3 linked regions of the Homo sapiens genome follow. The protein of the gene in region 3 interacts with the protein of the main gene of each other region in a pairwise test. Each region holds a gene or a part of one and is shown on either strand. Other genes may lie near its edges. The genes, in order: BNIP3L, OCLN and CLEC7A.

Region 1 (10,793 bases), on a different chromosome or scaffold from region 3:
AGTCCATTTCGCTGGGACAAACTTCAAACTGGCATTTCAAAGTCTAAGAACTGACTAGCAGCTTAACCATCAATTACTGCTTATTCAAAATCCTTTGTTATTTCAGTTATTTATAGGACTTGCTATTGTCCATTCACTTCTGATGACTCTGTTGTCCCCACTGGAGAAATAAGTTCTTGGCAAGACTGATTTTCTCTTGATTTGAATTTATAAATTGCCTAATTTCATGACCTTAAAGTTTGTATTTTTACCACTAGGTCAGAAATAGTAACAGATGAAGTAAAGGACGTGGTAATCTTTACAAACTCTTTCCTCCCCTCTAAAGATTTCATTACATTTTATAATTAGTTTATAAATGTGGTAATACTCTGAACTTCACACCTCTCATGAAGCAGTGGTGTAAGAAATAATTCAAGGGCTAAAATACGTAAAAGCAAAAACATCAAGAATGGGGCCCACTGGCTTCCTGAAGATTAAGTTTTGAGATGTGGAATCTCAGCTCACCTAAACCCAGAATTTAGATTTTTTTCTCTGCATTCTGTTCCATTATCTTGGTCCATTTACATTTTTGATCCACTACCAAACCTAAAGTAATATTTATAAAATGTCCATAGTGTCTATTCCTCATTCACCCATTCTTTTTTTTTTTTTTTTTTTTTTGAGACAGGATCTCGCTGTTGCCCAGGCTAGAGTGCAGTGGCACAATCATGGCTCACTGCAGTCTCAACCTCCTGGGCTCGAGCAGTCCTCCCACCTCAGCCTCCCAAGTAGCTAGGACTACAGGTGTGTGCCACCATGCCCAACCAATTTTTTGTATTTTTTGTAAAGATGGGGTTTTGCCATGTTGCCCAGGCTGGTCTTGAACTCCTGAGCTCAAGCAAGCCTCCCGTCTTGGCCTCCCAAAGTGCTGGGATTACAAGCATGAGCCACTGCACCTGGCTCCCACTTTTTTTAGACACGGTGTTGCTCTGTCACCCAGGCTGGAATGCAGTGGCACAATCCTAGCTCACTGCAGACTTGACCTCCTGGGCTCAAGCAATTCTCCCTCCATCAGCTTCTGAATAGCTGCAACTACAGGCGTGTGCTACCATGCCTGGTTAATATTTTTTAGTAGAGAAGGAGTCTTCCTATATTGCCCAGGTTGGTCTCAAATTCCTGGGCTCAAGCGATCATTCACCCATTCCTAATCCTGCTTTTTACCCTGAACCATAATTTACTAACAGCAACTGCAGAATTAAAAGGTCCACAGAGAGCACCTCGGGCAGCCCCTTGGCTTGACACAGGAGACAGCTGAAGCTCAAAGCATCATGTCGCCCAGGCTGTGAAGCAGCAGAGCCCAGTCCACCTGCCTGGTGCTTCTGGCTGCACTGGGGAATGAAGGCAGGAGCCATTGTAAGGCTTTGAGGATTTCAGCATTAGTTCCCGTCTCCTTCCAGAGGAGATACTGATGGGAAACAGCTCTGTCTTCCTTCAGCATCGACCACCGCCTCCTCCTCAAACATGGAGAAAGTGGAGCCACCAGACAGGGGTTTCATCACTTTCCATTTCTAACTCACCCCTTCTCATGTCTTCATTTCCTGTCATCAATGTCTGGGTTTTGTAAACTCCACCTTTCTAAGGCTCACCCTCCCTGAGTGCTTAATTACATTTCCTTCCTCTCCGGGAGGGAGTACGTCCCACTCTTCCATTACTGATCTGCTCCCTCCGTAACGCTAATATCTCCCTTTGCTCTCTCTCCTTAGCCTACACATTGGCCCCTCTATATTCCCAACCTAAGCCAACAATCCTACTATCCTGTCTCCTCTTCAGAAACTCCCCCCTTGTTTTCTTAATCATGAAGTTTATTCAAAAAAGCCAACACTTCTTGCTATTCATTCATTGACCCAACACAATCTTATCCAGGATCCCTCTTTCACTCCTACAGAAAATGCTCTTGCAAAGATCAGCACAGATCTGACTGCCATATTCCAAAGCTTCTCGATTCATCTTACTTAACCACGAAACATGTCAGGCTTGGTCACCTCCTACTTTTGGGGTTTCTGTGATACCAACAATTTCACCTAGAACTTCTCTTCTGCTTAGCCTTCAAATTTTGGGCTTCCCTGTTGTTTGAGTAACTTTCTTCCTTGCCCATTGTCCAATCTTTAAACATCATATAAATATATAATGCATGGGTCTGATTGTGTTTTACTTCCACTCCAGACCCTTCTCCTGGGTTATAGTTCTATTTAATAAGTGTCCAATCAGAAGGCCCTCAGACATTTCATGTTCAACGCACTCAAAACTGAAATCCTCCCTCTTTGCTCCTACCACCCCATTTCTTCTCCTGTCCTCCTTTAACTAATGGGATCAACCCATGTTTTCGGGCCACACACACAAAGGAATACACACGCCTTCGTCTCTAAGTCACTTTCTGACCAGTTTACTTCCGCTTTGTTTCTCATACGTATCCTGGCCCACCACTGCCAACCTCAGGGTGACAGCCCAGGACAGGCCCTAGCTCCTCGCCTAGAGAACTGATTGATCTCCTCTGGTACTCTCTCACCAGATGGCTTGACTGTCTAAAATTTACATCTTAAATCACCTCCTGGTTTAAAAGAAGTAAACCCAGCTAACTATATGATGAAGTGTGACCCCTGGGAGGGCACACACATTTCAATTAGGTTCAGTACTAACCTACATTTTTCAGTTTCCTCTGTATCCATCCTGTTTTCCAGGCACGTGGAACTTCCAGTTCCTTCTGGATCCACTTTCACTGGTGTCCCACTGTCATTTCCATCAGGGCACACTCTTCTTCTCTCCTGTACTTCCTGAGCACTCCTCCCGTGAGCGCCCTCCTGCCACTACCTGGAGGCAAATGCTCTGAATGCCACAGTCCCGAGGCACTCACGAATGCTCACACTGCGGTGACTGTCCCCACAGAACACCGTTCACACCCTGAGCACTGTTAGGAACTCCACTGCTGGGGAAGCCAGATGACTGGAAGGCTGTGTGTAGGCGAGGAGGCCTCATCGCCTGAAACTCCCAGGCAACAGGTGCGACAGAAAAATGATATACTGACAGGAAAAGTTTTGTGAGAGCTTTAATGGCACAAAATGTTTATAGCTACAAGTTATACATGTATTGTAAACTGTATATAACGATACAAAGTGCTAACTAAAATAGATGAAGAATGCATAATCACTTTGGCTCAGTTAATTCCAATAATTTCCACAACGGGTTCATGAAAAAACTTATCTGACTGGCTAAGTCTTCAATTCTCATTTTTTTAGAATAGTAAATATTTTTACTGCAATCACGGGAACTTGTTGCACTTTCCAATGTGCAAGTTTGTGCAGTTTTGCTCTTGATTCTATTTACAAACATCTTGAGCCAGTTTTCATCAAACATATGAAAAATGAAGCCTGCCTTTTTGTCCCCAAATTGTAAACAGGTGTAAAGCTTTTTAAACATTAACCTCACAATTTCAACTATTAATTGTTGAATTCTCCTTTCCAAACCACAATGTTTTCGTTCAACACAAATCTGGGTGTAGCAGTAAAACGTTCATCCCATGTGTTAGGGCTACAGATACATACTACATGCTCTCATAATAAATTCTACTGTGATGATGTATTCACGTTTTAAGTAATTTTCCATAATTTCACTGATGCTTTAAGAAAAAGGGCAACACTATGTTTCTTTTTAACGCTGAAAGAAATCATAAATATACCCAGTTTCAGTGGCACCACTGATAGAACTGCTGCTGAACTTGGAAAGAGCACAATGCACTAGCTGTAAGAAGTCACTTTCAGGTAAAGTGTAATTTTACTTTTCCCCCCTGTAATACCAATTGTAATAGAAATTGCATACTGTAGCAGTTTAGCTAGTCAGTTCTCCTAACTTTCCAGTCTTTCCAATTTTATTCAGGCTTTTCAAAAATCAGTGAGCCATCAGATTTACTTTCTTCCCAAAGAAATTCAAATATGAACACTTGAAATAAATAGGTTATAGAAGGCAAATCAAGTGTTACCAGGTTTAAGAGTAAGACAGAAACATGGTCTAGGAAAAAGATGTCCAAAATTATTTAGACATCAAATGCTAGAAAGAAAAAAGAAAATTACTTTCAAAACTAGGATATATCATCTTTCTTAAAGATAGCCAGCTATATTCTTGAAAAAAGATAAAAATTTTGTTTAATCTATATGTTATTTTCCACTATAACACATCAATTTTACAAATGTTGATGTGAGAAAAGAGTTAGTTTCTGCAAACTGGCAAACCTGTCTGTCATAGTGTTTTTATTCAAGTTGACCTGGTGCACTTTATAGATTGCTAGTTTTAAAATTAACAACGGTTCTCTAAATAGTCAATATCAATGTCTATATCATAAACAGTAATTATTTATATATAAAACATGTGGTATCCTTCAGAGTCATGCTAGATGTTCTGAAATCCAAGAAAATCTACTCGAGATAACTGGTCATCCTGATGCTTTCTAACAATTTGGTCCTAAAGCTTCACATTTTAGAAATGAACGAACAAGTATATCACTGAAGGAATCTGTTGAGTGTTCTGAACTTTAAGAGTTTACCATAACTGAAAAGACAGCTACATGAGAAAATGACCAGTGCCTGCAGTCGCAGGAATCACCTTGGGAAGACTGTACAGTAAACATTATTCAGTGAGAGATCAGAAGGAAACAAATGGCATCTTTTCAGAACGCTGTCAACTGTTCCCACAACCCAAGTCTGTTTTTCCAAGTTGCACAAGTGCTTGGAATAACTCTGAAACAATTCTCTTCAGAGTTTAAAGGCTTCAGAGTATAGGTGATGCTTCCTAAAACAAGAAGCCTGTATTAACATCACAAATTGGAACTCATTCCAAAGCCTCTTCTTAGAGAAAAAAAAATAAAGAAATAAAAAATAAAAAATGTAAAGAAGGTCATGAAAAATTCACATGCAGCTAATTATCGTAAAAAATATCAAACACACACGCAAAAATCTCAAAAAGCAATTTCATATATTTCTAAGCCTGAGACGTTCCTTATCAGAAAGAAAGATTCTACACCATAGAAAAGACAGCATTACAACATACTAGTATGAAAATCTGCTGATGTATTTTACTTCTTATTCTATTTCATACCTATCATTTATACAGTTTGCCTCCTATAAATTAAAAGACGCTATTAGGAGGCTTAGACAAAAAAGTGGCTCCAAAGCTGGTTTAAAATATTTTTTTTATTGCCCAGGATATTTTTTTGTTGTGCCTTGCCTTTTTTTTTTGTTTTGTTTTCTTTTTAATAACTATCAACTCAAACTTAGGGAAACTTGCCTTTGTCTTGGGGGAAAAAAAACAACTAGACAATAAAGCTTCTTTTACATCATTTGCTAACCTGATCTCGTTTTAAGAGAGAGATGGTAGTTATGTTGCAAGAGTAAAATTTATACCATGAATGATACAGGTCTAGTCTGGTGGCACTAATTAGAGATAATAGCATTGCTGACAAAATTATAATCTGCTGGTGGCATTTGCGGAAAAGAAGCCCTTGCAAATTTCTAAACAACAGTAAACTCTGTTAGGAAATTCTAAAATGTCTTCAGGCCAAAAAGGGTATAAGGTTAGTAAAATGCCTCAACAGAGTTTGAATAAAATATTGAATTTGAGAGTTACTGGAATTGGATATGTAAAAACAGGGTGGTAGGTTGGGTCATGCTTACAATGGTCTCAAGTTCAAATAAGCTACTGTGACAATACACCACTTCACAGGTCACACGCATTTCCAGGGGCTTTTCCTTTCCCTCAGTAGGTGCTGGCAGAGGGTGTGCTCAGTCGCTTTCCAATATAGATGCTGAAAGGAAGCAGAAGCATCATGTTTCACCTGTTTCAACAGTTCTATACCAGCTTGTCCACAGGTTGAACTCTACTTAAAACTCTTCAGTCTTTGTAAAAGGCTCTAAAGGTTTGTGGGTACCGCTCCCCAAACACCGTGAAATCATCACTGACTTTCTTAAAACCAGTCACCAGCCCGGCCAAACTGGTTTTATATGAGTTTGTTTACTCATTAAATATCGGGGCTCGACAGCAAAGGGGTAGTGATTAGACAAAGTAAAGCCAGAGAGAACAGATCCCTCCACAGAGTAAATAAAGCAGCCCAACTCCTTCAAGATGTTCCTCTTTGGTGGACAGAAGGTTCTACTGACATTTCAGACACAAAAATATAGTAATATGTGAAATTATTCTGGTGCTCTATGTAGGACAAAAGAAAAAAAAAACCTTAAAAGCTGCCAGTGCTTTAAAGACAGCTCTTACTAATAACTCCTAAGGATTAGGGGCCTTATAATACTTTTTCATGCCAAGAAAGTATTTGGCCTCTTCAACAGCAAAAGCAGAAGGGAAGTTAAGGAAAGTATGTAACTAGCTTCACCTCCAGTGCAATTAAAGCAACGAACTTTTTAAACACTCTTTTTACATTCATCTATAGCAATAGTTATACTTACAGCCAAGACAAACAATCTGAAGATGACTGAAAGAGAGACGGCAAGGTATAGACACCAATCGCTTAAGGGCAATGAACTGCTGTATAGGCAGCAATGTATTAAACTCCTACACCTGCCCCACATCAACCCCCACGCAACAGTCACACAGTCCCCTTCTGCACAAACCCCTTCTAGGTTGCTGTTTGTTGATTACTGTCCTTGCCCTCACAAAAGCAGATCAAGCACCCAAGAGAGACAAGACGGGTGTGTGGAAAGCTGTATGCAAGTTTCTGAGGTCGTGACTAAGAATCTCTCTCCAATATGCTGAGCTCCTTAAAGGGAAGAAAAAGGATGACCCCATCTTCTGCATATCTTATACTGAAAATGACCCACTGGGCATGCTTAGAGCACAACATACGTCTTGAAAAAAATTAACAGCTACTGTTTAACTCCTAAAATCTTTCAGAAGTGTAATTCCTCAATTGTTTAAATCAAGGAAAAAAAGCAATTTATTTAAAAGATGTGGCTAAGAAACTAATGAATTACACGTAAATATGAGGTTGATTTTAGCAAAATAAATGAAAATACTACAAAGTTAAAAAAGGAAAAAATTAGCACCAATCAACCTACCAGTTTCATTAAAAAAAACTATTCAATGTAATCATGTATTTTCCCATATGAAAAAAAGGTATTTGCACTGACCACAAAATGTACATGCTAAAGATTAGTTTAGTTCATAAATTACTCAAGATTAAATATTACACAACAAAACCCAAAAAGAAAAATCAATCACAGAGGAGTCCGCTTACATTTGATCATTTAGGGGATTATTATGAACATCTTCTTTTTTTTTTTTTTTTTTCCGAGATGGAGTCTCACTCTATCCCCCAGGCTGGAGTGCAGTGGCATGATCTCGGCTCACTGCAATTTCCGCCTCCCATGTTCAAGCGATTCTCCTGCCTCAGCCTCCCAAGTAGCTGGGACCACAGGCATGTACCACCATGGCCAGCTAATTTTTGTATTTTTAGTAGAGACCGGGTTTCACCATGTTGGCCAGGCTGGTCTTGAACTCCTGGCCTCAGGTCATCCACCCATCTTGGCCTCCCAAAGTGCTGGGATTACTGGCATGAGCCACCACACCAGGCCAAACATCTTATTTTCAAATAAGAAAACACACTCTACTATTATTAAAAATGCTTATTTGTAGAACAATTGTGCACCCACTTTTTTAAGTTCACCTTATTTGCACTAAAACATTGAAAGTAAAGCAATAAAAACTGCTTTCACATACATTTCTTCAATCTGAAAATAAGAGGATAAAATGAATGGAAAAAACTTCAGGAGTTGACCGGTACTTACCCTAGCCCCAAAGCCAAAACATGAGAAAGGAAGAGAGATGGAATGAACACCTTCAGAAATTCTGCGGAGAAAATACCCCCTTTCTTCATGGCTCCACTTTTCCTCATGCTTAAAGACACAGAACGTTTAGGGTGTCTGAAGTGGAACTCCCTGAGAAAGAAATTCAGAGGCAGATGTCATTTGCTGAAAATATCGTGGGGATTACCAGGCCCATTGCCTGTAAGCGTGCGCAGATCAACTGTGTCCACTGACAAGAAACATGTGAGAACTCACTTGGGTGGAATGTTTTCGGGTCTACTGGACCAGTCTGATACCCAGTCCGCACTTTTCTTCAAAGCCTCGACTTCCTTCTCTCCTTCTACAACTTCTTCTTCTGACTGTAAAGAAGAATTCAAACTTTAAGAAAAAAAGGAAGACCAATTCCTCCTAATACAAAGAAAAATCTAGACAGAAAAGATACCAAACTCATAAGGTTGTGTCTCAGAAATTTTAGATAACAAACATGTTGCTTTTCTAAAAAATGCTGAAAAATAATGTAAGATCAGAGTATGTAATATCTTCAGAACAACCTGAGTGAGCTTCACTGTTGGGATATCTAAGCACAGCACAGGAACTGCATAAGACTGTACTTTGGGATGTAATGCTAAGGGAAGTATGAAAAACCTCGATAAGAGTTAAATCTGGGCAATACTTACATGGAGGTCCATTATATTATTCTCTCTTGTATGCACTTAAAATTTTCGTAATTAGGCCGGGTGCAGTGGCTCATGCCTATAATCCCAGCACTTTGGGAGGCTGAGGCAGGCGGATCACTTGAGGTCAGAAGCTGGAGACCAGCCTGGCCAACATGGTAAAACCCCGTCTTTACTAAAAAAAAACACAAAACTTACACGCTGGGTGCGGTGGCTCACGCCTGTAATCCCAGCACTTTGGGAGGCCGAGGTGAGCGGATCACAAGGTCAGGAGATCGAGACCATCCTGGCTAACACAGTGAAACCCTGTGTCTACTAAAAATACAAAAAAATTAGCTGGGCGTGATGGCGGGCACCTGTAGTCCCAGCTACTCGGGAGGCTGAGGCAGGAGAATGGCGTGAACCCAGGAGGCGGAGCTTGCAGTGAGCAGAGATCGCGCCACTACACTCCTGCCTGGGGGAAAGAGCGAGACTCCGCCTCAAAAAACAAAACAAAACAAAACAAAAAAAAATTAGCCGGGCATGGTGGCGGGCACCTGTAATCCCAGCTACTTGAGAGGCTGAGGCAGAAGAATCGCTTGAGCCTGGGAGGTGGAGGTTGCTTGAGCCTGGGAGGTGGAGCCGAGATCCAGCCACTACACTCCAGCCTGGGTGATAGAGTGAGATTCCATCTCAACAAAAAAAAGAAAAAAAAAAATTTCATAATTAAAAAAATAAAAGGAAATAAAAGGATATGCTAAAAATAAAATGATGAGAAGTAAAACAAAAATAAGTGAGAGATGTGATGAGGAAATAAATAATAGTATTTATTGAGCACTTAAAGGGGCAAATATTATTCCAAGCATGTTACATGCATTTTTTTTTTTTTTCTGGAGACAGGGTCTCCTGTGTCACCCAGGCCAGAGTGCAATCACAGCTTACTGCAGCCTCGAACTCCTGGGCTCAATTAATTCTCCCACCTCAACCTCCCAAGTAGCTGGGACTACAGGTGTGTGCCACCACGCCCAGCTAATTTTTGTATTTCTTTAAAGAGACAGTGTTTCACTATGTTGCCCAGCCTGGTCTTGAACTCCCGGGCTCAAGGGATCTTCCCTGCCTCAGCCTCCCAAAGTGCTGGGATTACAGGTGTGAGACACTGCACCCAGCCACATGCATTAACTTTCACCTTGCAACAAATAACCCTATAAAAATAATTATTAAAATCCCATTTTACAGATGAGGAGACTGAGACATAGATTAAATAACTTGCCTAAGGTTCCACAACCAGTACATAGCAGGGCCAGTATTCAAACCCAGGAATACTGTATAGAGAGGCCCTACTGTTAAGCACCAGGGTTTACTCTCTGGAAGGAGATTATATTTTTAGGACAAATTGCTATACAAACATTTTCCAAGGTTTCGAAACTATGTTAGCCAAAAGTTTTTGGGAATAATCTATAATAAGTTGAGTCAGAATTTAACATGTGTCATATCAAATAAAATAAAAAATGTGACTTTTAAAAATTGCTTATTATAACCTAAAGTTTCAGGCCAAGAACAATTAACATTTCCAATAGCTCCCCTTTTAATAGAACCAAAAGGAATGAAAAAGTCCTAAAAATGATATTTATTTATTCAGTATTATTTATTCAGTTTTCTTTTTGAGACGGAGTCTCGCTCTGTCACCCAGGCTGGAGTGCAGTGGCGCGACCTTGGCTCACTGCAACCTCTGCCTCCTGGGTTCTAGCAATTCTCCTGCCTCAGCTTCCAGAGTAGCTGGGATTACAGGCGCCTGGCACTACACCTGGCAAATTTTTATATTTTTCGTAGAGACGGGGTTTCACCATGTTGGCCAGGCTGGTCTCGAACTCCTGACCTCAAGTGATCTACACGCCTCAGCCTCCCAAAGTGTTGAGATTACAGGCGTGAGCCACCGTGCCTGGTCATAGTCAGTTTTAAGGGATGTCATGCTATGATCCCAAACCCAGGGGTCTCAAAACTAAGAAGCATTTTGACATTTTATTTTGTTTGACTAGGATTCACTCAAAAGAATGACCAAAGCTGTCATTCTTTTCAGTAGGTAGCTAAGAAATGCAGAGTCTGACATATTCACATGACTCTTGACAGGTCTAGTTCTCTGTGAAACAGCTACCCCAGGAAGGAGCTTCAGACAGGGCAAAGTAAAACCCCTGTGCGTTCTGCTGCTCTTGTTAGTACCAATCTTATCTAGTTCTGCTGAACTTGGCAAATTCCACTGAATGACACAATGTAGCATTTAGGATTAAGCTCCTTCCATTGGCTATTG
Region 2 (11,719 bases), on a different chromosome or scaffold from region 3:
CCAGCTACTTGGGAGGCTGAGGCAGGAGAATTGCTTGAACCCAGGAGGCAGAGGTTGCAGTGAGCCAAGATTGTGCCACCGCACTCCAGCCTGGCGACACAGTGAGACTCTGGCTCAAAAAAAAAAAAAAAAAAAAATCTAGAAAAACCATGTCTTAAGACAAATGATTGGAAAAACAGGAAATGTTTGGCCTGGAGAACTTAACGTCAGAAGAATCGCTTTAGCAGCCCTGAAATATATGAAGAGCTGTCTTTGTTATCCTAGAAATGGTTAAAAAAAAAAAATTCCAAAAACCACAGGCTGATTTCATCTCAATGTTAGGAAGCCTCTCCCTCACCCTGACCCCACACCCTCTCCGAAAATAACTAACAACAATTTGAGCTCATGCAATTTATGCAAAGCTTAAGTTATTTGATATTTTTTTGGAGACCAGACTGGAAGACTTCTAAGGTCTCTTTCAAAGTGAATCTGTGACTGTGCTTTAAGGCCAGCAGCCAAAGGTGAAAGAGGACCAATGCCCAGCACAGCAACATTAACAATCTGTACATGTGTTGAGTGAAGGAAAAAATGAGAATGAAGAGGCCACTTATCACCTACAGGAACTTATGTCAGGAGAGTGACAAGGACAGAAGTCAGACAGCTAAATTAGAGTCGGGGGCAAAAGGGAAGCAGCAGATAGATCCTTGTCAAATATGTTAATCTGAAAACCAGCATCTTGGGCTAATGATAAAATATAAAGTGTTCTCCCCTTGACAATGTTTACTGACCAAAAGCTGTCTTAATGGAAAACTAAGCTAAGATGAAAAAAACAGGCTGAGGCTGGGCAAGGTGGCTCACACTTGTAATCCCAGTACTTTGGGAAGCCAAGGCAGAGGGATTGTTTGAGCCCAGAACTTCAAGATCAGGCTGGGCAACAGAGTAAGACTCCGTTATCTATCTTAAAAAAAAAAAAAAAAAAAAAGTATAAAAAAAGAAAAAATAGTCTGAAAATGCTTTGGCCTCAAATTATTCTTTAAAGAAAACTGTCAATAAGTGAAAAATAAACTTTATTGTATTTAAGAGAAGTCTGTTCCTTTTAGAGCACATGCAGTAACTGTCAATTTGCCTTTAAAAAGTTTAAGTTGTGGCCGGGCGCGGTGGCTCACGCCTGTAATCCCAGCACTTTGGGGGGCCGAGACGGGAGGATCACGAGGTCAGGAGATCGAGACCATCCCCGCTAACACAGTGAAACCCCGCCTCTATTAAAAATACAAAAAATTAGCTGGGCATGGTGGCAGGCGCCTGTAGTCCCAACTACTCGGGAGGCCGAGGCAGGAGAATGGTGTGAACCCGGGAGGCGGAGCTTGCAGTAAGCCAAGATCGTGCCACTGCACTCCAGCCTGGGAGACAGCGAGACTCTGTCTCAAAAAAAAAAAAAAAAGTTTAAGTTGTGCCTTATATTAAATGATTTAGACTACAGGCACATCATTAGTAAATTGTCTAAAAATTTGAAGTTAGGCAGATTTTGTAATAGACTCTGTGTCAGAAATTGTATTTTTAATAAATCTTCCAGGTGATTTTTAAACACATCACATATTTTGAGAATTGCTGTCTACAATAAAGGTGTCAATCCAAAAAGGACATTGATCTTGCAATTTCCTGTCTAGAAAGCCCAGATCTTTTACACAACAGACACCTGCTGTTCAGGTCTCAGCTCAGACGTCACCTTCTGGGAGATGCCCTCCCTGTCCCTCACTCCATCACACAAAACTTGTTTTTTTTTTCAGAGCAAACTCCCCTCTGCCCTCATACCTAAAATATAGGTATCATCTCCACCGCATCTGGAATGCCCATATCCCAGACATCAAATGTCTATTTTGACCATCATTTATATCCCTGGTCGCTGGAACTAGCCCTGGCACAAAGTGATTGTCAATGAGTACTCAATTAATAAAACCAACAGTCAATTATTAGAGTTGGGATTTCAATCCAGCAGTGAATGCCTTGAAGTTCTTCACACAACACTCAATAAACGTTATTTTTTCCAACTTCAGTTTGTCAAATGTAATTAAGTGCGTAGAGTCTAAGAGAAAGGGAGAAAAAGAAGACAGAACAGTCTGAGAATCACCTGTGAGCCTGTTAGAAAGGCAGAATCCCAGGCCCCACTCCTGACCTCCCAATCAGAATCTGTGTTTTAATAGGATCCCTAAGTGATTCATACCACAGCCAAGACTGGAATCACTGGGTTACGGAACAGCGGCAAGCCTAGGGGTTAAAACAAAAAGCCTAACATAAATCTGCATGGTCTGTTTACTCTCTTATTTCCATAAATAGTAATTTGATGAAAAAGATCCATTAATATTCCAATCAAATAAGCCTTAAAATGCAACTGAAGAAAACTTCCTTCTGGGAGGTTCCTAGGAAGATGAAAGATATTACATCAGATCATTTATGTGGTTAAAAGTAATATACTATTTTGAAAAGGTAGTAATTCCAACACTACCTTTAGAAGAAAACAAGAATTTTACCTTGATATCAAGCAAAATGCGGGAAATCTTGTATCAGGCTACAGTTACTAGTCAATGGTAGAAAAGTCCAGAAAAATTCCCCAAATCTGGTTCTGGAATATCAAGGACCGCTGCTTCTGATACTCCTTCCCATATTAGCTGAAGCAGTTTGCAAGCAAGCCCACCTGCAACGTTTCCCCCACGGCATTTGCCCACTTTTAAAATGGAGTTCTACTAAGGCCTGCCTTTTAGAGTTGTTGGGATAATTAAATGAGAAAATACAGAATGCTTTTACCACAGTGCCTCACGTGCAGGAGGCACTGCTGCCCACTATTTCCCGAAATGGCCTGGAAACTGCCAAAAGGTGGAGAATCATGTCTTACCGATCTCCCTATCCTCTGCTCCGTCACCTAACAAAGGAGGCCCCTAATAACTAAATAAATTGCAAAACGACCAAAAAAAAAGTGTTGCTTTGTTTGAGGAAATATCTCTGCCTCCCACACACACTTAAGATGTCTATTTTAAAGCACCACTAAGAAAATATTCATAAAGGCTGGGTGTGGTGGCTTACGCCTGTAATCCCAGCACTTTGGGAGGCCAAGGCGGGCGAATCACCTGAGGTCAGGAGTTCGAGACCAGCCTGACCAAATGGCAAAACCCTGTCTCTACTAAAAATACAAAAATTAGCTGTGCATACTAGTGGGTGCCTGTAATCCCAGCTATTCGGGAGGCTGAGCAGGAGAATCGCTTGAACCCGGGAGGCAGAGGTTGCAGTGAGCCCAGATGATGCCACTGCACTGGGGGACAGAGCCAGACTCCGTCTCGGAAAAACACACACACACACACACACAAGCACCTCATATGTACAGTGCAAAAGAACTACTGTTACTATTGTTACACTTGGGAACGCCTAGTTTTCTATCACACCAAGAATCACCAAAAAACACCATAAGTGCCTTCATGGGAAACGTTTCTCTTTTCCAGGTATCCCAATAATACACCTGTTGCCTAAGGGCCACACACTGACTGGCCTGGAAAGCCGCCGCCTCCTCCTCGAGCAGGGTAATTCCCCAAGCGGGCAGTGTGGCCAGCGAGCCCCGGGTCCGGCCTAAGGATGCCGCGGCTTTTCCCTCGGGCCCGGTGGCTTCCCGAGGAGCGCGAGGGGCTCGGCGCCGCTCCCAACCCCTAGGCGCAGAGGCCATCTTGGCCCTCGACCCCTGCTCCCCGCACGCTTCCTCCGACGCAGGCAACATGGCTGGCGCGCGGGGCCGGCCCAGTCCCGGAGGTCCCCAAACTCCGTGGCCCGGCTGGGCGCGGGTCCCGGCTTCCGTGCGCACCGAGGCGCTCCCAGGCAGCGCGCGCCCACGTTCGCCGGGCAGGCACCGCCCGGAGGCAGTTCCGCCCCCCTGGGGGCAGCCCTTTTGGTCACGGATGAGAATCCGAAGCGTGAGCAGCTTCCCTCGAAGTCCAGCCTCACTCGAAATTAACTCCCCGCCCCCCAGCTTAAATCGACGCGGGTTCACACAACTCGCAACAAGTGGATTCGAAGTAGCCAGTGTGGCCCACACCGTGACTCCTGGAATATTTCACAGATTGAATCCAGCCCCCGTCTCCCCGGGATATCCAAAGGGGTGGGGTGGGAGCGGAAGGAATGAAATTCCCCCCGGGATCTAAGCCGCCCGGGCCGCCGAACAGCCGCCTCGCTGCAGCCTCAGGCTTAGGACCCCCAAGGAGCTGGGCGCAGGATCCCTCTCCATGAAGGCCGCCCCCCCAAACTGCAGCCCCAGAGCGGATGCAGGATCGTCGCTGTTCAGGAATGTCGTGCCCCATAAAAGTGAAAAGTTGCCCGCGCCGCTGAGGCACTGCTAGCTTTCAGCGTTTCCGCGGAATAAAGCTTGATCGGCGGCTCCAAGCCACCCCTCGCCCCAGGAGGCAGCCTCCCAAGTTGGCCGGTGCTGCTCTCTCCGCAGACCCGCGCCTCTCTGGTTCCCACGAGTCCCAGCTCGGGGACGAAACTGCCACCGAAACCAGCGCGGAGCGTCCTCCCCCCGGCACCTCCCCTAACATAGTCGCCGCGGTCCCCCCACGGGGACCCTCGGGCTCCCGTGCGCCCCTGACGCCGCGCCCAACACTCACCCGCTCGCCGCAACTGGGCCCGACCCTCCGGGGGCCAACGGTGCCAGGGAGCGCGCTCACCTGGCGGGCGCACCTGACGCCGCACCGACCGCCAGCGCTCAGCCGGGGACTGGGCTGGGGACGTCTCCTCCCCCTTCTCCCTCTCCTTTCCCTCCTCCCTACAACCGGCCCTGCCCCCGGGCATGCGCACCAACGTGGAAGGGGGTGCGGGAAGCCTGCGGGCCAGCGCCGCGAGTCCCACCTGCTGCGTCCTAGACCGGCTCCTCGGCGCTCTGGACCTGGCTCTCGGTTCCTGCCGCCTCCGCCAGAGGAAGCAGGGAGGGAGAGGTGGACGCGGGAGTGTAGGTGTGGTGTGTCGGCCTCCTCCCTCGGTGACCAATTCACCTGAAACTCGGATGGGAGGGGGCGGGAGGACGCGGTCCTGCTTCCCACACCCTGCCAGCGCGCTGTTAAAGGAACCGCGCGACGTTGCGGCCCGAGAGGCGGGGCGCAGAGGAGAGGCGCGGGCTCCTAGGGGGCAGCACGGATGGGGGTCCCTGACCACCCCGGGGTGCGTTCGGTGCTCCGCCTGCTTCGGATGGAACCTTGGGGTGTCTGATGGAGAGAGGCCGAACGAGGTCCAGAGGGGACTGTTTCCTCCGGAAAGAGGGTCCAGGCACTCAGCACTTTGATAGGAAAGGCACGTCCTCACAGGACACTTTTCTGCTTCCAGAATTTGATTAAACTGTTGCTGGAAAAAGGCATCTAGATGTATTGCTCCAACGAAAGACTCCTGGGAAAATTTCAAAAGTCGTGTGTAAACATTGGCGCTGTTTCTGAATCTCTAGATTCAGAATAAGAGACAATTACTTAGAGGGGTTAAAATGAGGGTGAACTACTGTAGGTGTTAGTTGCCATCCAGCAGGCTAAAGTGCATAATACAGTTTACACATCACCACCCCAGGGTCCTCTCCTGCCCACCCGGTCCGCTCTTGAGGACCGGGAAATTTAAACTATTATGGCTCTTTGGCCTGAGAAAAAGCACCTTATACGTTGTTTACCAACCTGTAGTGCTTTAAGAACAACACTACTTAAAAAGCAAAATAAACTTGGTTTACTTTTTTTTTTTTTTTAAGAAAACGAAAAAGCACCTTAGTTCCGGGTGCTGTATTCTATTTCTTGATCTGGATTCTGTTTCCAAGGGAAATTTCATAGTCTGCACTTAACACTGTGTATATTTTTATGTATGTTGGTTGTTTTTCAACATATTTTTTAATTGTACTCCAGGATGTGGCAATTATAGTTCTTGGCATTTAACTATCTGCATTGAAAGCGAACTTTTAGGTTTCTTACATCCTGCTTGTCTTTGTGTTCCAATCTGGAATGTCAGCATTGCTAATAAATTTCTATCCAATCCCACCCACTTCTCTACCTTTAATTAAATGGTTAGAGATGTGACTCTCCCATACATTAGATCTTAAGGCACAATTCATACTTGAGGAAGTAAAAGCACTATATAAATATGAGGTATTTCAGATGATGGCAGCTTTAATGGGTAATTAATTTAATTGGTATTTTTTTCGTGGAAGTCATTGCTACAAATGCTTTAATATGACTATGTAGTTTTTGAATGATGCAGTTTAAATTGGTATTGTTAACACTGGGGAAGTCAGGTTAATCCCCTTAATGTTCCCTGTCAGATTACTGAAATCTCCAAACATTCCATTTGGTTTATAATTAAACAAGGGAACATTTCCTAATACTCTCAGATTTGTAAACACATGTCTATTATTTTATAATGTATTTTGACATGTTCTGAAGAGATCTTAGGAGTTTTTTTCCACTTTATAAAAGAGAGTTCACATACCATAAAATTCACCCTTTTAAAGGGCACGTACAATTCAGTGGGTTTTAGTATACTCACCAGATTGTACAACCATCACCACCATCTAATTCCATTTTAATCGCCCCCAAAAGAAACCCCATGCCCATTAATAGTCACTCCCCATTTCCCCTCTCCCCTCATCCCTCGGCAACCACTAATGTACTTTCTGTCTCTATTAATTTGCCTATTCTGGACATTTTATATGAATGGATAATACAATATGTGCCCTTTGTGTCTGTCTTCTTTCACTTAGCATAATATTTTAAAGGTTCATCCATGATGTAGTATGTATTGGTACTTCATTCCTTTTTATAACTGAATAATATTCCATTGTATCGATGTATCACATTTCGTTTAATCATTCATCTGTTGATGAACATTTGGGTTGTTTCTCCTTTGGGGATGTTATGAATAATGTTACTATGAACATTTGTGTACAAGTTTTTGTGTGGACATATGTTTTCGGTTCTCTTGGTAAATTAGGTTTTTAAATTAAACTTTTTATCATTTTAAGATAACTTATGCATATCATGTTATTTTTCTTATTCCCACCCTAAACCTAAACTCAAAGACATGTTGTGTTGGGTAGAAGGCTTTCATATTCTATTTGCTTTCCCAATTCATTCCTTCAACTATTTTCTGAGTGCCTAATCTGTACACACACGAGTGAACAAAACTCAAAAATCTCTGTGAAACTTACTTTCTAGTTAGTTCTGAGTTCATCCATATGGAATAATAGGATTCATTAATTGTATGAATTCTATTTTATTCGCTTGAGATTAATTTTCTAAACAACAACATCAAAAGAACGGTTAACTATTGTCCAATATTGTGTATATTTCATAGTTGAAAGTGTCTAGAAAGAAAATCCAGCCTTAAAACTTAAACACATCATTCTTCAATACCAAAACAAAATTTGTTGGATGTTAAATGATGCCATGCTCAATTTAATCATGTTACATAATCATAAATTATAGCAAAATTTAATTACTATATTTTTTACCAAATATTCCTTCTTGGCAACTCACAGTAGTATTGAGTAGTATCCACTATTGAATATTATTTGATGAAAATCCCCGTGACTCAGAGCAATGTAAATATTATTTTCAGAACCCCATGATTAGAAACTTGTTGACTTTACCTGCAGTCAAATGGATAAGATGAAAAGACAATTTGTTTCTCCTTTTCTATGTGTAAAAGAGAAACTTAAGAGCTCAGATTATGGTGTCAGAAATCTCAGTTCAAATTCCAGTGTTGCTACTTGGTAGCTGGGTAGGACTAAAGGAAATTAAACTATGTAAGGTTCATTTTTTTCCACCGTAAATTTGAGATGATAATAAACAATACTGTCTTTATAAGTCTGTTGGTGGGAATGTGGAGCATTCACCAAGACAGACTATATGCTGAGCCACGAAACAAGTCTCAATAAATTGAGCAAGCCATTGCTGTATCCTATATGCCTGAAATAGTTCCTGTCACATAGGAATTACATAACTATGTGTTGGATGAATGAATGAATGACTATAGCCCTGCTTCCCAAATCCAACATGCCTGTGGAGTCTTGTCCTCCTCTCAGATGGCCTCCTGCTATTGTGAAACCCGCACGTTCCTTAGTAGCATTTCAAGGCTTACATCTCTAGTACTAGGGTTTAGAGGAGAAAAGACGGGAGATTAACATAGTTCCACTGTTTCCACTCTGCCTTGCCTGCTTAGTAAATGAATTCAAAGACTGGTATGTGTCCAAGGCAACTCAGTTTGGAGTTGCTGAGGGCCTGGCCTGAAAGGCCTCTAGTTTCTCTGCCCAGTCATGAGGAGGGGGAGGCTTCTGGTCCACACAGGACAGTTTCCTTGGACAGGTGTATGGAAGAATTTATGGGGAAGCCACTAGGAAGACAATTTCTAAAAGGATGATTACACTAGATGAGTAAACCTTTATCTTCTCTATTCCTATGTGTTAAGCAAGATCCTCCTGGGAGGAATCCATATTTAAACAAAGAGACTCAGCACCTGAACAGGAACTTCAACAGGTGGAAGAATAATAATAGCACCATTTACTCAGGGAAAAACATGTTCTAAGTACTATGCTAAGTGTTTTTTTGGTTTTCTGTTTGTTTGTTTTGAAACAGAGTCTCCTCCGTAGCCCAGGCTGGAGTGCAATGGTGTGATCAGCTCTCTGCAACCTCCGCCTCCTGGGTTCAAATGATTCTCCTATGTCAGCCTCCTGAATAGTTGGGACTACAGGCACCTGCCACCACGCCTGGCTAATTTTTGTATTTTCAGTAGAGATGGGATTTCACCTTGTTGGTCAGGCTGGTCTCGAACTCCTGACCTCAGGTGATACTAACGCCTTGGCCTCTCAAAGCGCTAGGATTACAGAGGTGAGCCACCATGCCCGGCAGTTTTATGTTTTTTTTTATTTTTTTCTGGTTTTTGGGTTTTTTTTTTTTTTTTTTTTTTTTTTTGAGACGGAGTCTCGCTCCGTTGCCCAAGCTGGAGTGCAATGGCGCAATCTCAGCTCACTGCAACCTCTGCCTCCCAGGTTCAAGCGATTCTCCTGCCTCAGCCTCCTGAGTAGCTAGGATTACAGGTGCCCGCCACCACGCCCAGTTAATTTTTGCATTTTTAGTAGACACGGGGTTTCACTGTGTTGGTCAGGCTGGTCTCAAACTCCTGACCTCAAGCAATTCACCCGCCTCAGCCTCCAAAATGCTGGGATTACAGGCTTGAGCCACCGTGCCCGGCTGGGTTGTTTGTTTGTTTGTTTGTTTTTGAGATGGAGTTTCACTCTTGTTGCCCAGGCTGGAGTGCAATGGCGCGATCTTGGCTCACTGCAACCCCCACCTCCCAGGTTCGAGCGATTCTCCTGCCTCAGCTTCCCGAGTAAGTGGGATTACAAGCATGAGCCACCATGCCCAGCTAATTTTGTATTTTCAGTAGAGACGGGCTTTCTCCATGTTGGTCAGGCTGGTCTCAAACTCCTGACCTCAGGTGATCTGCCTGCCTCAGACTCCCAAAGTGCTGGGATTACAGGCGTGAGCCACCACGCCCGGCCCCGGCTGGGTTTTTATTTTTATTTTTTTGGTCTTTACAAGAACTTTATGATGTACTATTATTTTCCCCATTTTACACATAGGAAAACTAAAGCTCAGAAAGTATTGATCATTTACTCAAGTTGTCTACTAAGTTGTAGAGTCAGGATTCAAATACAGGTCATCTGATTCCTGAACCAATGTTCTGAACAGTTTTACTATATTTTAGGACTACTTTTTGTCTATAGGCAATATAGGCAATATTCTGTTTCTTCCCGAGTCCAAGTTACACGGCTGTTAGCCTTACAACAATTTATCAAGCTGTGCATATGTTTTATATACATTTTTGTAGGAATTTTGTATTTCATAATTTAAAAAAATTATTTTGAGTCACCTCTGTCACCCAGGCTGGAGTGTAGTAGCATGATCATGGCTCACTGCAGCCTCTATCTCCTGGGCTCAAGCGATCTTCCCACCTCAGCCTCCTGGGTAGCTGAGACTACAGGCACGCACCCACAACTGGCTGATTTTTGTTTTGTTTTGTTTTTAAATAAAGATGAGATCAGACCGGGTGCAGTGGCTCACGCCTGTAATCCCAGCACTTTGGGAGGCGGAGGCGGGTGGATCACTTGAGGTCAGGAGTTCCAGACCAGCTTGGCCAACATGGTGAAACCCCGTCTCTACTAAAAATACAAAAAACATTAGCCCAGCGTGGTGGAAGCACCTGTAATCCCAGTTACTTCGGAGGCTAGGGCAGGAGAATCGCTTGAAACCAGGAGGTGGAAACTGCAGTGAGTCGAGATAGCGCCACTGCACTCCAGCCTGGGTGACAGAGCGAGACTCTGTCTTAAAAAATATATAAATATAAATACAAATAAATAAACAGAAATGAGGTCTCTCAATGTTGCCCAGGCTGGTCTCAAATTCTTGGGCTCAAGCAGTCCTCCCATCTCGGCCTCCCAAAGTGCTGGGATTACGGGTGTTAGCCACCACACCCGGCCAAAATTTGCTAAGAATAGGGTTTAGAGACAGTCTTAGAAAATAGTTGGAGATCCACATCTAGGATTTTTGTTTTGTGAATAACATTTTTCAAATACCAGCAGAAAATACATTCATAGGATCAGAGTAAGTTGAGATCAGCATCTAAAGAGAGAGTAAATGGGTTTGGTGTGGGACAGAATATTGGCACAATTATAAGGATAATACAGAGAAAGAGATTTGGGACTGCTTTTTTTTAATTGTATCAGTCATCTATTGCAGTGGAAAACTGGCCTTGCAGGCTTTTTCAGGAACTAGCCTTCCTGAATCTTTTAAGCTCAAAAAAGGAAAGAGGAAAAAGTAAACATTAACCAAATATTGTCTTCGCTTACCTACTTTTAACTTCATGGGGCTCTTTACCTCCTGTGTCCCCAAACTGAAAAAGATAATAATAATTATCTCGTAATTTAGCATAAGGAATCCTAACCCTAGAAAAATCTCTTGAACTGGGTCAGTGTGAAACCAATACACTTTAAGCAGATCACAAATTTCTCTTGTTATTCTTTGGTTTTGAGGTACGGGACTCCTTTTATTCGATACAGGGGTTTCCAAATAGCAGCTTTTCTTGTTTTTTTGTTTTTGTTTTGTTTTTGTTTGAGACAGAGTGTCGGAGTCTCACTCTGTCGCCCAGGCTGGAGTGCAGTGGCACAGTTTCGGCTCACTGCAACCTCCACCTGCTGGGTTCAAGCGATTCTCCCACCTCAGCCTCCCAAGTAGCTGGGATTACAGACGCGCACCACCACGCCTGGCTAATTGTTGTATTTTTAGTAGAGATGGGGTTTCACCATGTTACCCAGGTTGGTCTTGAACTCCTGACCTCAAGTGATCTGCCCTCCTCAGCCTCCCAAAGTGCTGGGATTACAGGCGTGAGCCACTGCACCTGGCCCCATATGGCAGCTTTTCTGATTTTACTTGGAGTTTCTTTAGGATAAACTCAAGGAGCCTACAAGCAAAAACTCACTACAGTTCCTGAAATGTTGTTGTTGGCTGACACGGTACAGCGTAAGTGGGACATATGAGAATTGTATGTGAAAAGGAATATTTATTCAGTCAAGAAATATTTACCTCAGTACCTGCTGTATACCAGACCCTGTTCTAAGCCCTGGAAATAACAGTGGCCTCAAGACAGACAAGGTCCTTTATGGAAGTTTAGGGAGGAAATAGTT
Region 3 (8,142 bases):
CATCATGAATGAAGGGTAGAGCTTCAATGAGGTAAGATAAGGGGTTAATAGGAAAAATTCTATGTTATAAATCTAAACCAGTCTATAACTTCTACACCTACTTTCACTATTCTTATTTTGTTTTTGTTTCTGTAATGTCTTACCCAGTAGTAATAATTTATATTAAAGTTAATGGAACTAGATATATGGCAAAGAAAGAGTACTGGATTACAAGTCTATCTGACTTTTAGGCCAGCCTATAATTGAAAATAAATTGTTATAGATTTGTAAACAATTCAGATATCTTCACTGAACCTCAGATTACATATTCATAAAATATACAGTTGGACTAAATTATTTTTAAGTTGTTACCTAACTCTGAGAAGTACTTCTTAACGAAAGTAGCGTCAATTTATTTCTTCAATTGGAGGAGAAGACAATGGCTAATCATCCATGAAAACTGCCTAGGGGGACTGTCATCTGGGATTTTGTCAGATAGGTTGAATGGAGGCAGTACAGTCCTCACATTACAAATCTATTCTTTTGGAAAATTAAATGATAATTACTTTAAATAAATAAGATAGGCCTTTTGAGACATTCAATGACATTCAAAAATTGGCACTTCTCTCTAGGTTGATGTCAGGTTAGGCATGCATTCTTTTTTTTTTTTTTGAGACGGAGTCTCGCTCTGTCGCCCAGGCCGGACTGCGGACTGCAGTGGCGCAATCTCGGCTCACTGCAAGCTCCGCTTCCCGGGTTCATGCCATTCTCCTGCCTCAGCCTCCCGAGTAGCTGGGACCACAGGCGCCCGCCACCGCGCCCGGCTAATTTTTTGTATTTTTAGTAGAGACGGGGTTTCACCTTGTTAGCCAGGATGGTCTCGATCTCCTGACCTCATGATCTACCCGCCTCGGCCTCCCAAAGTGCTGGGATTACAGGCGTGAGCCACCGCGCCCGGCCTTGCATTCTTTACCAAAGTGATTCAATCAGTTGTCTTTTTCTCAGCGTCCATGATAATAGTTTCTTTCTCTCTCTCTCTCTCTCTTTATTATATATTTGTATATGTTTCATTACAGGGATTTATAGTAAAACAAGTGTCTTCCCAACCTGATAATTCATTTTGGATAGGCCTTTCTCGGCCCCAGACTGAGGTACCATGGCTCTGGGAGGATGGATCAACATTCTCTTCTAACTTGTAAGTGTTTGGAGAGACAATGCTTCATCCTTTTTCTCAGAGAGGTTTCCATCTCATCTATGAAAACCTCTGTCGAGCAGCTAAGAACCTGATTTGCTCACCATATATGAGAAAGAGAGGGAGAAAGATATAGAAGAAGAGAAAGAGTGAACTAGGACAAGAGGAGAAAGATGAGGAGGACCTTAGAGTGAAAAAGAGTGAGGCCATCTAGTAGCATCAACACAGATATTCTTCTGGTTTTCTTACTAGGGAGGCATCGACATGTTTGAAGTTGTCCAGGCAAGGAGCAGTCACTGTCAGTCAGTGTAACTCCCCGGTTAAGAGCATGGGTTTTGAAGCCAGGCCTCAGTTTGGGTTAATGATTACCCCACTCACTGATTGTGTGACACTGGGGATAAGTCACTTTTCCTCTCTGAGTCCCATTTTCCATAAACAAGAATAGAAAGGTGCTCTTGGCCAGGTGTGGTGGCTCACACCCGTAATCCCAGCACTTTGGGAGGCCCAGGTGGGCGGATCACTTGAGGTCAGGAGTTTGAGACCAGCCTGACCAACATGGTGAAACCCCACCTCCACTAAAAATTTAGCCGGGTGTGGTGGCATTGCCTGAAATCCCAGCTACTCAGGAGGCTGAGGCAGGAGAATTGCTTGGACCTGGGAGACAGAGGTTGCAGTGAGCTGAGATTGCACCATTGCACTCCAGCCTGGATGACAGAGTGAGACTCCAGTGAGACTCCAACTCAAAAAAAAAAAAAAAAAAAAAGAAAAAAAGAAAGAGTGCTTTCCTCTTAGAATTGTGAGATGGGTATAAAAGTAAAATAATTTAGCACAGTGTCTTGTACATAGTTAATGTGTGAGACTTATTATTAAGTTAAAAAGCAACCACATTTTCACATTTTGCATTTTAGAAAGATATTTTAAACGTATTTCACATTTGCCTGATGATACATTATTCCTTATTATGTGGTTTCTGTCACTGCTGTTGTCATTCATTTGCTTTTTAATATCTGCAGAATATGAAATATGTCTCTTTTAAGTTCTTATTATTAGTGTGTGTGTGCACACCTGTGTGTGTTTTTTCATCTGTCTCAGTAGGAGTACCGTTCAATTTGGTTTTTCAAAGAAAGTAACTTTTGACTTTGTTGACTCTGTCTTTTTATTATTTCTTTCATTAACTTTTATTCTAATCTGTATTACTTCCTTCCATCTAATTTATTTTTATTTTATTTTGTTTTATTTTTTGAGACAGAGTCTCACTCTGTCACCCAGGCTGGAGTGCAATGGCGATCTCGGCTCACTGCCAGCTCCGCCTCCCGGGTTCACGCCATTCTCCTGCCTCAGCCTCCTGAGTAGCTGGGACTACAGGCGCTCACCACCATGCCCGGCTAATTTTTTGTATATTTAGTAGAGACGGGGTTTCACCGTGTTAGCCAGGATGGTCTCGATCTCCTGACCTAATTTATTTGTTTTAAATTTGCTATTCCATCTCAAACTTCTCGTATTGGGTGCTTGCCTCATGAATTTAAGCCTTCCTTTATCTCAAGTATGTAGACTTAAGGCTATAATTTTAATGTATTTTCATTGTCTTTCAGTTCAAAATACTTTCTGATTTCCACTGTGAGCTGCTCTTTGACCCAGGAGTTATTTAGAAATGCATTTCTTAATTTACAAACATATGTGTTTCTGGTTATCTCTTTGTTTTAGGTTTCAGGCTTAGTTCCACTGTGATCAGAGAACATGCTCCACGTGCTTGTAGTTCTGTGATTTTTACGTGCTTCTTCCTCTTTCCATATGAAAAGAATTGTGTTGAAATCTTCCGCTGCGATTCTACTTACAGTTCTGTAAACATTTTATTCGATGTGTTGAAGCCGTGTTATCAGGCACATAAAGATTTAGAATTGTTACTTTTTTTCCCCTTTCTTTCCTCCTTTTTGGACGATTTAACACTTTTTCTTATTCTGTTTTTTTTTTCTGTTCATTTGGAATGTGCTCTTTCATGTCTTTTACATCTCTTTTACTAATCTTTTAGTAGTTGTTCTAGGAATTACACATGTATACTTCACTCATCAAAGACTAACATTAACTGACATTTTTATGTTCTTCCTGACCAATATAAAAATCATAGAGCATTCCTTTACTCTGTTGACTCTCTCCTCAATTTATATGCTATTATATTAATGTATTTATTTTTATTTATTTATTTTTATTTTATCGCCCAGGCTGGAGTGCAGTGGGGCAATCTTGGCCTACTGCAACCTCTGCCTCCTGGGTTCAAGCGATTCTCCCACCTCAGCCTCCTGAGTAGCTGGGACTACAGCTATGCGTCACCAGCTGGGTGTGGTGGTGGACGCCTGTAATCCCAGCTACTCAGAGGTTGAGGCACCAGAATTGCTTCAACCCGGGAGACGGAGGTTGCAGTGAGCCGAGATCGCACCACTGCACTCCAGCCTGGGTGACTGAGCCAGACTCAGTATTAAAAAAAAAAAAAAAGAAAAAGAAAAAAGAAAAAACTAGCCCTTGGGCCGGGCGCGGGGACTCACGCCTATAATCCCAGCACTTTGGGAGGCCGAGGCAGGCGGATCACTTGATCTCTGGAGTTCGATACCAGCCTGGCCAAAATGGTGAAACCCCATCTCTACAAAAAAAAAAAAAAGATATAAAAATTAGACAGACAAGGTGGCGCACAGATTTATGCAGTTAGTATTCATTTCAATTTGCCCACATATTTATGATTTTAGTTGTTTATTTCTTTCTTCCTTTCCAACTGTACATTACAGGTATTTTTTCTTAAGACTGATATTTCCAGTAAGTATAGAATTAGAGGTTTGTTGTTTTTCCTCTCAGCCACTCAAATATATTATTCCACTGTTTTCTATTTTTTACTGTTGTTTTTGAGAGGTCATCTGTTTGAAGGTAATATATGTTTTAAAACTAATGTGTTTACTCAGCACTGAAAAATTCTCAGCCATACTTGCTTCATATTTTGCTTTTCCCCATCTTTTTTCCCTTCTCCTGGAATCCCAGTTACATTCATTACAGACCCATTGACACCATCCTATATGTTTCTTTTGCTTTTTCCTGTGTTTTCATTCTTTTTTAGCTTTTTGCTCCAATCTATGTAATAACCTTTCACATATCTTCCGGTCATCTATTTTTTCTCATCTGTGGCTAATCTACCATTAAAAGCCTCTATTAAGTCTTTTATTTTGTTTGGTGACATTTTCAGTTTTATAATTTTAGTTTAGTTCTTTCTCAAATCTATTATTTCAACACGTATACTTCTACTTTTTCTTCCAACATTCTTAGTATTGTCTTCTAACTTTCAGAATACACTAACCATAGTTGTTTTAGCTTGTGTCTGATAATTCCAATTTTCTATATGTATCTGTTTCTGTTTGTTTTTTTTTTTACTATTTTTCTTTTGTGTTGATTAGTTTTCTCTTATGTCAGATTGCTTTTTATAGTGTTGTTAACATTTTATCTTAAAATCTTTGTAGAATTAATTTGAAGTGTTTTTTCATTTGCCTCTGTTCTCACCACCAGGTCTGTTCACCCAATAGTGTGAACAGTACAAACTGCTGAGCATAATCACTTAACTGTTTTACTTCTACTAGGCTAAGTACAGTGAATTTATTATCAGCCAAATGTATTTTCTACTTTCTTATAGTACTTGTTTGTCTTGAGTTTTCTCTTGCTATTTTAAATGTATGACTAGAGGACTCTTTCTATAATCACAAGTGGGCCCAAGTTAACATTTTGATATGTTACTACTTTTTTGTTTTCCGGGTGGCATTTATTTAATCTAGCTGTGTCTATGCCCCCAAAACACTTATAGGTCAAGGAAAATTTTTAAGGAATAATGCTGGTCAGAGTTCTCCCTGAGGTCTGAATCTAAGTAGTTAATCTTAGCCTTAGTCATCGCTAAAGCAAAGTTTTCTCAATCTTCCAACCTCAGGGTCAAGAGGGAGAGATACATAACCAGGACAAAGAGTGCCAAGTCATAGCTTTTGCACTGACGGTCAGTGATGCTCTTTGAGCTTGACTCATTAACACTGCTACTTAAGGAGATTGAAGACCAAACTGAACAGGACCATGCCTGCATTTAGCAGTGTTGATTTCCATAACTGTCAAGCATTGTATTGTAATATAATTCTGCTTCCAGGATACATTAAAATATACAGAGTTGTTTGCCCTGCCTTTAAATGGCCTGGGCATCTCTGATTCTCTTTTTAGTTCTAGATCTGTTTTAGCATTAATGCTTCTGCTTGGTCTACTCATTAAGTATATCCAGTAATAATTTAATTAAACTGTTACTTGATTTGATAAAGAAACATTTAAGTAATAGGCTGAAAGATATATAAAGAACTTTTTATAGAATATTAAATGATTTTTCTTCTTTGTCAGGAACTTTTTTTTTAGTTTATGCAGCTAGTAGCAGTTCTTGAAAAAAAATTAAGTCGTTTTTCTGCCTTAATAATGGAGACTATTCATTTAACCACTTGAGATTCACAACAATTTAGATTTAAGCCTCCTTTTCCAATAATAGAAACACTTCAGAACTCTTTTCACCAATATCCTTACTAATTTATTTGTGCGCCATGTAGACAGTATTCCTTAACATTTGTTCTAATTACCTCACTGTATTCTATTTTAACAGATTTCAGATCAGAACCACAGCTACCCAAGAAAACCCATCTCCAAATTGTGTATGGATTCACGTGTCAGTCATTTATGACCAACTGTGTAGTGTGCCCTCATATAGTATTTGTGAGAAGAAGTTTTCAATGTAAGAGGAAGGGTGGAGAAGGAGAGAGAAATATGTGAGGTAGTAAGGAGGACAGAAAACAGAACAGAAAAGAGTAACAGCTGAGGTCAAGATAAATGCAGAAAATGTTTAGAGAGCTTGGCCAACTGTAATCTTAACCAAGAAATTGAAGGGAGAGGCTGTGATTTCTGTATTTGTCGACCTACAGGTAGGCTAGTATTATTTTTCTAGTTAGTAGATCCCTAGACATGGAATCAGGGCAGCCAAGCTTGAGTTTTTATTTTTTATTTATTTATTTTTTTGAGATAGGGTCTCACTTTGTTACCCAGGCTGGAGTGCAGTGGCACAATCTCGACTCACTGCAGCTATCTCTCGCCTCAGCCCCTCAAGTAGCTGGGACTACAGGTGCATGCCACCATGCCAGGCTAATTTTTGGTGTTTTTTGTAGAGACTGGGTTTTGCCATGTTGACCAAGCTGGTCTCTAACTCCTGGGCTTAAGTGATCTGCCCGCCTTGGCCTCCCAAAGTGCTGGGATTACAGATGTGAGCCACCACACCTGGCCCCAAGCTTGAATTTTCATTCTGCCATTGACTTGGCATTTACCTTGGGTAAGCCATAAGCGAATCTTAATTTCTGGCTCTATCAGAGTTGTTTCATGCTCAACAATGCCATTGAAGTGCACGGTGTGTTGCCACGATTTGACCCTCAACTTCTAGCAGTATATCAGTTATGAACTGAGGGTGAAATATATTTCTGAATAGCTAAATGAAGAAATGGGAAAAAATCTTCACCACAGTCAGAGCAATTTTATTATTTTCATCAGTATGATCATAATTATGATTATCATCTTAGTAAAAAGCAGGAACTCCTACTTTTTCTTTATCAATTAAATAGCTCAGAGAGTACATCTGCCATATCTCTAATAGAATCTTTTTTTTTTTTTTTTTTTTTGAGACAGAGTTTCGCTCTTGTTGCCCAGGCTGGAGTGCAACGGCACGATCTCGGCTCACCGCAACCTCCGCCCCCTGGGTTCAAGCAATTCTCCTGCCTCAGCCTCCCAAGTAGCTGGGATTACAGTCAGGCACCACCACACCCGGCTAATTTTGTATTTTTTTAGTAGAGACAGGGTTTCTCCATGTCGGTCAGGGTAGTCCCGAACTCCTGACCTCAAGTGATCTGCCTGCCTCGGCCTCCCAAGTGCTGGGATTACAGGCGTGAGCCACTGCACCCAGCCTAGAATCTTGTATAATATGTAATTGTAGGGAAACTGCTCTCATAGGAAAGTTTTCTGCTTTTTAAATACAAAAATACATAAAAATACATAAAATCTGATGATGAATATAAAAAAGTAACCAACCTCATTGGAACAAGTATTAACATTTTGGAATATGTTTTATTAGTTTTGTGATGTACTGTTTTACAATTTTTACCATTTTTTTCAGTAATTACTGTAAAATGGTATTATTGGAATGAAACTATATTTCCTCATGTGCTGATTTGTCTTATTTTTTTCATACTTTCCCACTGGTGCTATTTTTATTTCCAATGGATATTTCTGTATTACTAGGGAGGCATTTACAGTCCTCTAATGTTGATTAATATGTGAAAAGAAATTGTACCAATTTTACTAAATTATGCAGTTTAAAATGGATGATTTTATGTTATGTGGATTTCATTTCAATAAAAAAAAACTCTTATCAAAAAACCCATGGCCTCTAAATTATGTGCCTGTGTGTCACAATCACTATTACAATTTGCCCTCTCCCCAAAAATGATGATGAATTTGGTATGGGTGGAGTGGATATTTATAGTAGATATTTTGATATTAAAGCATTAATTCGCGATCTTAAAAATTTTAAAAACCTAAGAGAAGATAAAGATCTTTGTGAGGTTTACTATTGTTGTTTAATATGCAAATTTGTTTTCATTACTTAAAAACATGTAGAAAGGGAAGAGATAGATAGGTGCAGCAAACCACCATGGCACATATATACCTATGTAACAAATCTGCACGTTCTGCACGTGTATCCCAGAACTTAAAGTACAATTAAAAATACATACATAAATAAATAAATGATGTAATGTATAATAAACATAAAAAAAGAAAGGGAAGAGATAGATCAGGCTGAGAACATGAGGAGTATGGTTAACTGTTTTAAGTAGTTAAAGCATAGGATGGAGTTTGGAAGAGATATCTAGTATTTT

What was found.
Region 1: the proteins of CLEC7A (region 3) and BNIP3L interact in binary tests that used the Homo sapiens proteins (3 or more experiments, as listed by UniProt).
Region 2: the proteins of CLEC7A (region 3) and OCLN interact in binary tests that used the Homo sapiens proteins (3 or more experiments, as listed by UniProt).

The regions. Positions count from the first base shown.
Region 1 is NC_000008.11:26,405,401-26,416,193, reverse strand, and holds the end of BNIP3L (BCL2/adenovirus E1B 19 kDa protein-interacting protein 3-like), read right to left. Parts: intron 8,195-10,793; coding exon 8,091-8,194; intron 7,968-8,090; coding exon 7,818-7,967; intron 5,831-7,817; coding exon 5,782-5,830; 3' UTR 3,067-5,781; downstream 1-3,066.
Region 2 is NC_000005.10:69,485,804-69,497,522, reverse strand, and holds the start of OCLN (occludin), read right to left. Parts: upstream 4,734-11,719; 5' UTR 4,623-4,733; intron 2,498-4,622; exon of another isoform or gene 2,108-2,497; intron 1-2,107. UniProt on the Homo sapiens protein: May play a role in the formation and regulation of the tight junction (TJ) paracellular permeability barrier.
Region 3 is NC_000012.12:10,116,277-10,124,418, reverse strand, and holds the end of CLEC7A (C-type lectin domain family 7 member A), read left to right. Parts: intron 1-1,055; coding exon 1,056-1,174; intron 1,175-5,828; coding exon 5,829-5,961; 3' UTR 5,962-7,642; downstream 7,643-8,142.